Linked DNA regions of Homo sapiens. The protein of the gene in region 2 purifies or fractionates together with the protein of the main gene of each other region. This does not show direct contact. Each region holds a gene or a part of one and is shown on either strand. Other genes may lie near its edges.

Region 1 (3,809 bases), on a different chromosome or scaffold from region 2:
CCTTGATCTGGGACTTCCAGCCTCTGGGACTGTGATTTTTTTTTTTTTTTTTGAGATGGAGTTTTGCTTTTATTGCCCAGGATGGAGTGTAATGATGCGATCTCGGCTCACTGCACCCTCTGCCTCCTGGTTTCAAGCGATTTTCCCGCCTCAGCCTCCTGAGTAGCTGGGATTACAGGTGCATGCCACCACGCCTGGCTAATTTTGTATTTTTAGTAAAGACGCGGTTTCTCCATGTTGGCCAGGCTGGTCTCAAACTCCTGACCTCAGGTGATCTGCCCACCTCGGCCTCCCAAAGTGCTGGGATTACAGGCGTGAGCCACTGTGCCCGGCCAGGTCTGTGAGGTTTTAAACCACCTGTCTGTGGCACTTTGTTACGGAACCCGAGCTGAGTGGTACAGGGAGGAAGGCCCTGTGGTTCAGCGCATTTTACAGCTGAGGAAACTGAGGCTGCAGTCTCCATCTGTGTGTCCTTTGGTTGCTTGTATGAGTGAGGTGGCAGGTTTGGGAATGAAACCACGCCTGCGGTGCCGGGGCTCCCACCGGTAACCTCCCGTTTTTGGCCTCGGGGCTCCGGCAGGAAGGAGTCCCAAGGCTTAGATGGAGGTGCGGAGGGCGTGTGAGTGTCCTGGAGCTGCTGTAACAATGTACTGCAAACCCAGTGGCTTACACCCTCAGACGTGCATTCCCTCACGGTTCCGGAAGCCGGCAGTCTGAATCGCGGTGTCCCTGTGGCTGTGACCTGTGAGACGGGCCATAATCCTCCCAGCCTCTTCCACTTCCAGCGGGGGCGGCCCACCCTCACCTTGGAGCTGTGCCTCTCCGGTCTTTGCCTCTGTCCACACATGGCCTTCTCCCCATGTGTCTCTGTCTCTGTTTTCCCTTCCTATAAGGACACCAGTCATTGGATTAGGGCTCACCCTAATGACCGCATCCTGACATGGCCACTTCGGCACAGACCCTGTTTCCGGCACAGGCCACATTCACAGGTTGTGGGAGCACAGGAGTGTTTCTGCTGGTGCATCAGGCTGGGGTCTGTCCTCACCGGGATGTCTCCTCCTCCACCCCTCTCTTCCAGAGGAGGAGCGAGTGGACATTCTAATCAACAACGCGGGTGTGATGCGGTGCCCCCACTGGACCACCGAGGACGGCTTCGAGATGCAGTTTGGCGTTAACCACCTGGGTGAGGCCTGGGCAGGGGCTGCACCATGGGTTCAAGCGATCCTCCCCCGTCGTCCTCCCAAAGTGCTGGGATTTTAGGTGTGAGTCAAAAGTGACCTTTTCATCATCCTTAATCCAGGTCACTTTCTCTTGACAAACTTGCTGCTGGACAAGCTGAAAGCCTCAGCCCCTTCGCGGATCATCAACCTCTCGTCCCTGGCCCATGTTGCTGGGCACATAGACTTTGACGACTTGAACTGGCAGACGAGGAAGTATAACACCAAAGCCGCCTACTGCCAGAGCAAGCTCGCCATCGTCCTCTTCACCAAGGAGCTGAGCCGGCGGCTGCAAGGTACGGGGGCGCTAGGCTCGGCCTCCCTCTTGCTTTACTCTGAGCCTAGAGCGGCCTTTCCATGATCCTAGGCTGATGGGAGGCCAAACGGTGGATCCAGAACAGAGTCAGCAAAAGTAGAGCATGTGGACCACGCTGCCCGCTTCTGGTGCCTGAAGCAGACATCACTAATCGATCGTTCTTCTGAGGATTGTCTGTTCATCCCAGGTGGTCTAGTCTGCCTGGATCAGATGTCCTTCCCTGCTGCTGTTGGGCAGGCAGCTCAGCCTTTTGGCTCCAGCCAGTGAGTCTCAACCAGGGGCAGTTTTGACCCGCAGTTGTCAATGCCTGGAAACACAGTGATCACAGCTGGCTTGGGGAGAGATTGCTCTGGGCATCTGGAGGGTAAAGGCCCAGATGCTCTCAATGTCCTACAGCGCACGGGATGGCCCCTCACTCCTCCCAACCCACAGCATCCACAGTGCTGAGATTGAGAAATCTGTGCTAGGCCTTTGCTTCTGAAAGACGGTCTGTGGACCAGCGGTGCCAGCCCCACTGGGAGCTGGTCAGAGTTACAGTATCTTAGGTCCCACCGCCACGCACCGATGCAGGCTCCCGGGGTAAGCTCAGCGTTCTGGGTTTATGAAGCCCTCCAGGAAAGCTCGGCTCCCAGCAGCCATGTGGCAGAGCCGCTCCGCAAGATAAGACCACTTCACTAAGATTCCAGAGCAAGAGGGACGATGGGGTTTGAGTGCAGGAAGCAGCCTGGTGCCCGGAAGCCCCACAGCTGGGTGTGGGCTGCCACAGCCTCCCAGGTGAGGCTGGACCCCTCCCTCAGTCTTCTCTTTCTTTCTTCCCCAGGCTCTGGTGTGACTGTCAACGCCCTGCACCCCGGCGTGGCCAGGACAGAGCTGGGCAGACACACGGGCATCCATGGCTCCACCTTCTCCAGCACCACACTCGGTGAGTCCCCTCCCAGCCTGGGGTCTCCACGTGGAGCCCTCCACCCCTGCTTTCTCAGCCCAGGGCCCAGGACCCTCCCTCAGAGACCGTCCCTGAGGCCTCATGCCTGCTCCTCGCCTACGTCTTCTGAGGCACAGAGCACAGGTCCCTTTCCTCCGTTGACCTGGCCTGCCAGCCTCTAACAGCCCCGGGAAGCAGGCAGAGCCCTGCTGGCGGATGAGAAAACCGTGTCTCAGAGGAAGAGGCCGTGGAGCTGACGCCTGGAGTCAGGCTGTACTCAGGGTAACTCCAGCTTCACCCCAAACCAGCTGCACCTCCTGGGGAAGAGCTGTTACCCCTCTGAGCCTGTTTCTTCATCTGCAGAGTGCAGGCCTTAATAGGACTCACCTCACAGTCACTGGGGGGGTTATACGAGACCTTCCTTGAAAGGGCCAGCACAGGACCCCGCCCAGAGAATAGGTGGAACAAACAGTTGGAGCTTTACTTACTTATTTTTGAGATGAAGTCTTGCTCTGTCGCCCAGGCTGGAGTACAATGGCATGATCTCCACTCACTGCAACTTCCACCTCCCAGGTTCAAGCGATTCTCCTGTCTCCAAGTAGCTGGGATTACAGGTGCACACCACCACACCCAGCTAGAGGTGGGGTTTCACCATATTGGTCAGGCTAGTCTCAAACTCCTGACCTCAGGTGATCCAACTGCCTCCCAAAGTGCTGGGATTACAGGTGTGAGCCACCACCCCCAGGCAGTTCATGCTTTATGACTAGTGTTTATAATCCTGAAAAACATGGAGTGGGTGATTGGTTGGCATCAAGAATCTTAACTTGGCGAGGCTAATAGCCACGCCTGTAATCCCAGCACTTTGGGAGGCTGTGGTGGGCGGATTACCTCAGGTCAGGAGTTCGAGACCAGCCTGGCCACCATGGTGAAACCCCGTCTCTACTAAAAATACAAAAATTAGCCAGGTGTGGTGGTGTGCACCTGTAGTCCCAGCTACTCAGGAGGCTGAGGCAGGAGAATCGCTTGAACCCGGGAGGCAGAGGTTGCAGTGAGCTGAGATCACACCACTGCACTCCAGCCTGGGTGACAGAGCAAGACACCAGGTCTCAATAAATAAATAAATAAATGTCTTTTTTTTTTTGAGACGGAGTTTTGCTCGTCACCCAGGCTGGAGTGCAGTGGCACAATCTTGGCTCACTCCAACCTCTGCCTCCTCGGTTCAAGTGATTCTCCTGTCTCAGCCTCCCAAAGTAGCTGAGATTGCAGGCGCCCACCACCACACCCAGCTAAGTTTTTATTTTTAGTTGAGACAGGGTTTCACACGTTGGCCAGGCTGGTCTTGAACTCCTGACCT
Region 2 (3,809 bases):
TCCTCCTTTTCACAGGTGCCATCACCCCACTCATCAGGTACCGTCGCCGTGTCAGGTCCTCCCTGAGAGTGGCCAGAGCTGGGGGAGAGACACAGAAGGGAGGCAGGGAATGGGCATGCCTGAGGAGGGGCACACAGCTATGTGTGTGACTGCAGTGGGGAACCAGTAAGCAGCATGCAGATACGTATGAAGGGAAGGGAAAGAAGAGACAATCTGAGGGACCACAGAAGTTCGGGGGTATGGGGAGCCAAGAGGGCAGAAGCGGCACAAAAGGGATCCTCACCCATGTCATACTGTAGGCTGAGCTCAAGTTTGGGCCAGAGCATGATGAGGGCAAAGGAAGCATAAAAGTGGACATCATATGTGTTGTACATGCGGTACTCCTGGCCTGGAGGAATGAATGAGACACACTGTTGCCAGAATTCCTGCTTCCCCTTCAAACCCCTCTGTAGCTTGTCCTCTAGATTTAGAGGTGGGGCATTGTTACTAGTCCACACCCAACACCCCCTCATCCTAACCAATACCCTGGGGTAGGCAAATCCATCATCCTGACTTGGGGATGGCCTGCCATATCCCAGCCCACCAGCATCCTGTACCCTCAAGGTAGCCAAATCGACCGTAGTCCCGTAGGGTGGGGCGGAGGTGACACATGTTTCTGCCCAGCTCCTCTGGTAGGGAGTCCTCAAGAACTTCCAGCCACACTGTGCCTCCATCAGCCAGGAAGTATAGTTCATTGAACAGCGCAGATTTGTACCAGGCAGGCAGTGATCTGGGAAGCGAGGAGGAGGAAATGGTTTAAGGAACATGTACCTCCCAAGATGGAAAGGATTTGGGGGTTCAGCAGAGTGGGATCATCAAATGAATCCCAGTGCAAGTCTACTGACTTTGGTGGGTGGAGAGTAAATCGAGGAGTCCCATTTGGAGTGAGTGCCCAGGAGAAAGGCAAGAAATGGGCCCCACTGGCACCTGTCATCCAATACCGGGCTCTGCCAAGCTGAGATCCTCTCTTCCCACTCTGCGTATCGGCACAGTGCATAGTGGCTGAGGGCAGGTGCTGCATCTCCATCCTGGCCAAAGAACCTTGTATACCGCCTGGGGTGGGAAGGGGAAGGATGAACACAAGCCCCAGGTCAGAGCCCCAGCACTCTGGATCCTTACACTTTCTTGGTCCCCTCACCTGTAGTGGACTTGGCCTTTAGCTCCAAACATGATCCTGGGCATGTCCCAAGCCAGTGAAAACTCCAGGCGGCACTGGCCTCGAGGTCGCAACTTGCTGGAAACACACACAGCTCCAGCAATGCCTACTCCTTTCTGCGTAGGGGTGCTTTGGCCTGAGAGAAACACAAGAGAATTCAGGACAGGAGCCCCTTCAGCCCCAGGGATAGGGATCCCTAACATGGAAACAAGGCCTACTTATTACCAGGCCTCCCACCCCTGGTCCCAAGACAGGGACAACCTCTCTTCCCACCATCTCCCAGTCAGACCCCCCATCACCAGTGGGAGAGTCCAGCTGTCCATCCTGAAGTAGATCCTGCCACACCTGCTGCCCCGTGCTGTCAGGGTCAAAGGCTGTGATGTGGGTTACCGTGGTAGCTGCCTGTGAAGGGGTCAGGGACTGTGAGGGCAGGCTCCACGAGTACACTGGGTCCCGGCTAGCTCCCCAGCTCCTCTTACTTACTCTTAACCTCCCAGGCCCAGGGGCTTACAGGAGTATGATGAGGGTGGATGAAGAGACCATGCTGGGGTGGAGGTGGGGTTCAGGGGCTAAGGTATAGGGCAGGCTCTTTCCTTACCGTGACTCGTGCAGCCACAGCCATCGTGTAGGGGTTTGGAAGGGTTGGATGATGCAGGAGCAGCCCCCGGACAGTTTCCCCGCTACGCTCCAGACAGAAGGGCTCATTCCACAAACCCCCTGGGGCATCGTCTCCACCACCCAGTCCATTCCGCATGGAGAACATGATGGACACATCTAGAGCTTCGTCCCCTTCATTTTCCACATCCCACACAAAGACTCCTACAGGCAGGCTGCTGTCCTGGGGGCAGAAGATTAGACTCAGACGGTCCCAGTAGAGCGCCTCCTGACCCCACTCTGCTAGGATCAGTCCTGGGCACACAGAGGACCTGACTCAAATACTCCCCAGTGTACTCTTCTTTTGTCCACTTGCATCTCCCCATATTCCCAGGCAAGCTGCCTAGCAGGGAATATAGAAGACCAGAACCAGTTGGGCGGTGGTTCTGGGAAGCCAGTGTGATGTTCATGGCTCCAACCTCCCTTTCACAGGCCATGCAGTTTCTTTTTTTTTTTTTTTGGGGGGTGCGGTGGCGCAATCTCGGCTCACTGCAAGCTCCGCCTCCCGGGTTCACACCATTATCCTGCCTCAGCCTCCCGAGTAGCTGGGACTACAGGTGCCTGCCACAACGCCCAGCTAATTTTTTTTTTTGTATTTTTAGTAGATATGGGGTTTCACGTGTTAGCCAGGATGGTCTCGATCTCCTGATCTCATGATCCGCCTGCCTTGGCCTCCCAAAGTGTTGGGATTACAGGCGTGAGCTACCGCGCCTCGCAGGCCATGCAGTTTCTAGCAGAGGCAGGTCCTGGGGAAGGGAGGGCAATGGAAGATACAGATGTGGGGGCCTCACCTGGTAGTCATGGGGCAAGATGGGTGTGATCTGACGGCAGGTGAGGGTGACATTCTGGCCAGGAAGCTGATAGACAGTCCAGGCTCGGGGATAGAGGGCATGGTAGAAAGCAAAGTACCCACACAGGCCCCAGTTCCAGCTGCGGAGGACACTTGGGCGCTCCAGGGACAGGACTTGCTGGTACACAGTCTGCCCTTCCCGACGCAGGCACACTGTGAACTTAAGAGGGCAGATAGGCTGGAACGGGGTAAACCACAGGGACCACAGACTAAGTCTTCCCTCTCCTCAAATCAGCTCCTCCCCTTTCAGAGCCTGCAACTGTTACCACTGCACCATCAGCTTCAAGTCATCCCCCAGGCTCAGTGAATCACCAAGTCCTGCTACCTCCCCATCCATCTATCTCCCAAGCTTTCTCTCCCTTCTCCACTACGGTGGTGTTAGCACCTCACTTAAGCCCAATCTCCTGCTTTTTCTGTGGCCCTTTTCATCTGGGTAGCAGAGTGATCTTTCTCACAGGCAAATCAAGATATGTCAGTCCTTGGTTAGGATGTTTCAGTGACTCCCCATGGCCCTCAGGCTAAAGTCTCAACTCTTGCCTGGCTTTCAAGGCCCTTCTTGAGCTGGCCTCTCCCTGCCCATCAGACTCATCACCTGTTCAAGCACCTATAGTCTGTTCATATAAAAACACTCACTGTTCCTTGAGCACACTACATTCTCTCCTCCATGCCTGTGCTCATGCTTGTTCGCTATCTGGTGAAACCTCTCATCCTTCAAAGCCTAGGTCAAAAGCCATCTCTTCCTCCTCTACTTCTTCCAGCAGTGAGTCATTATGTGTGCCCCCCTCCCCTTCTATTCTAGCATTTGGTGTATTATGTTATAATGTATTGACTGACCATTCTGTGTCCCTGACTGCTGTATGGATTCTTCTGAGGGTAGGGACATTTTTTAATTCACTGATGCACCCTTCTTCAGAGTTGGCATGTATGTGGAGGGAATGAGCGAAATCTGCAGCACCGTCCCTTTTTCCACAGTATACTATCCACCCCTCTCCTTTTAGCACTGATGTGGTCTCACAGTCTCCATTTCCCCTAAGTCTTATTTTCTCAAAAAAAGTTTTAGCTCTTGGAGGGTAGGAGCTATGAGGGATTAATATCCCTTTCCCTGGTTCA

What was found.
Region 1: the proteins of GBA2 (region 2) and RDH13 purify together in Homo sapiens (affinity purification with mass spectrometry; one large-scale study listed by BioGRID and IntAct). This does not show direct contact.

The regions. Positions count from the first base shown.
Region 1 is NC_000019.10:55,046,033-55,049,841, reverse strand, and holds part of RDH13 (retinol dehydrogenase 13 isoform 1 precursor), read left to right. Parts: intron 1-1,078; coding exon 1,079-1,183; intron 1,184-1,300; coding exon 1,301-1,513; intron 1,514-1,584; exon of another isoform or gene 1,585-1,796; intron 1,797-2,353; coding exon 2,354-2,455; exon of another isoform or gene 2,456-2,737; intron 2,738-3,809. UniProt on the Homo sapiens protein: Retinol dehydrogenase with a clear preference for NADP. Oxidizes all-trans-retinol, but seems to reduce all-trans-retinal with much higher efficiency. Has no activity toward steroids.
Region 2 is NC_000009.12:35,739,032-35,742,840, forward strand, and holds part of GBA2 (non-lysosomal glucosylceramidase), read right to left. Parts: intron 2,878-3,809; coding exon of another isoform or gene 2,860-2,877; coding exon 2,641-2,859; intron 2,034-2,640; coding exon 1,794-2,033; intron 1,598-1,793; coding exon 1,495-1,597; intron 1,332-1,494; coding exon 1,178-1,331; intron 1,093-1,177; coding exon 967-1,092; intron 770-966; coding exon 597-769; intron 389-596; coding exon 284-388; intron 79-283; coding exon 1-78. UniProt on the Homo sapiens protein: Non-lysosomal glucosylceramidase that catalyzes the hydrolysis of glucosylceramides/GlcCers (such as beta-D-glucosyl-(1<->1')-N-acylsphing-4-enine) to free glucose and ceramides (such as N-acylsphing-4-enine).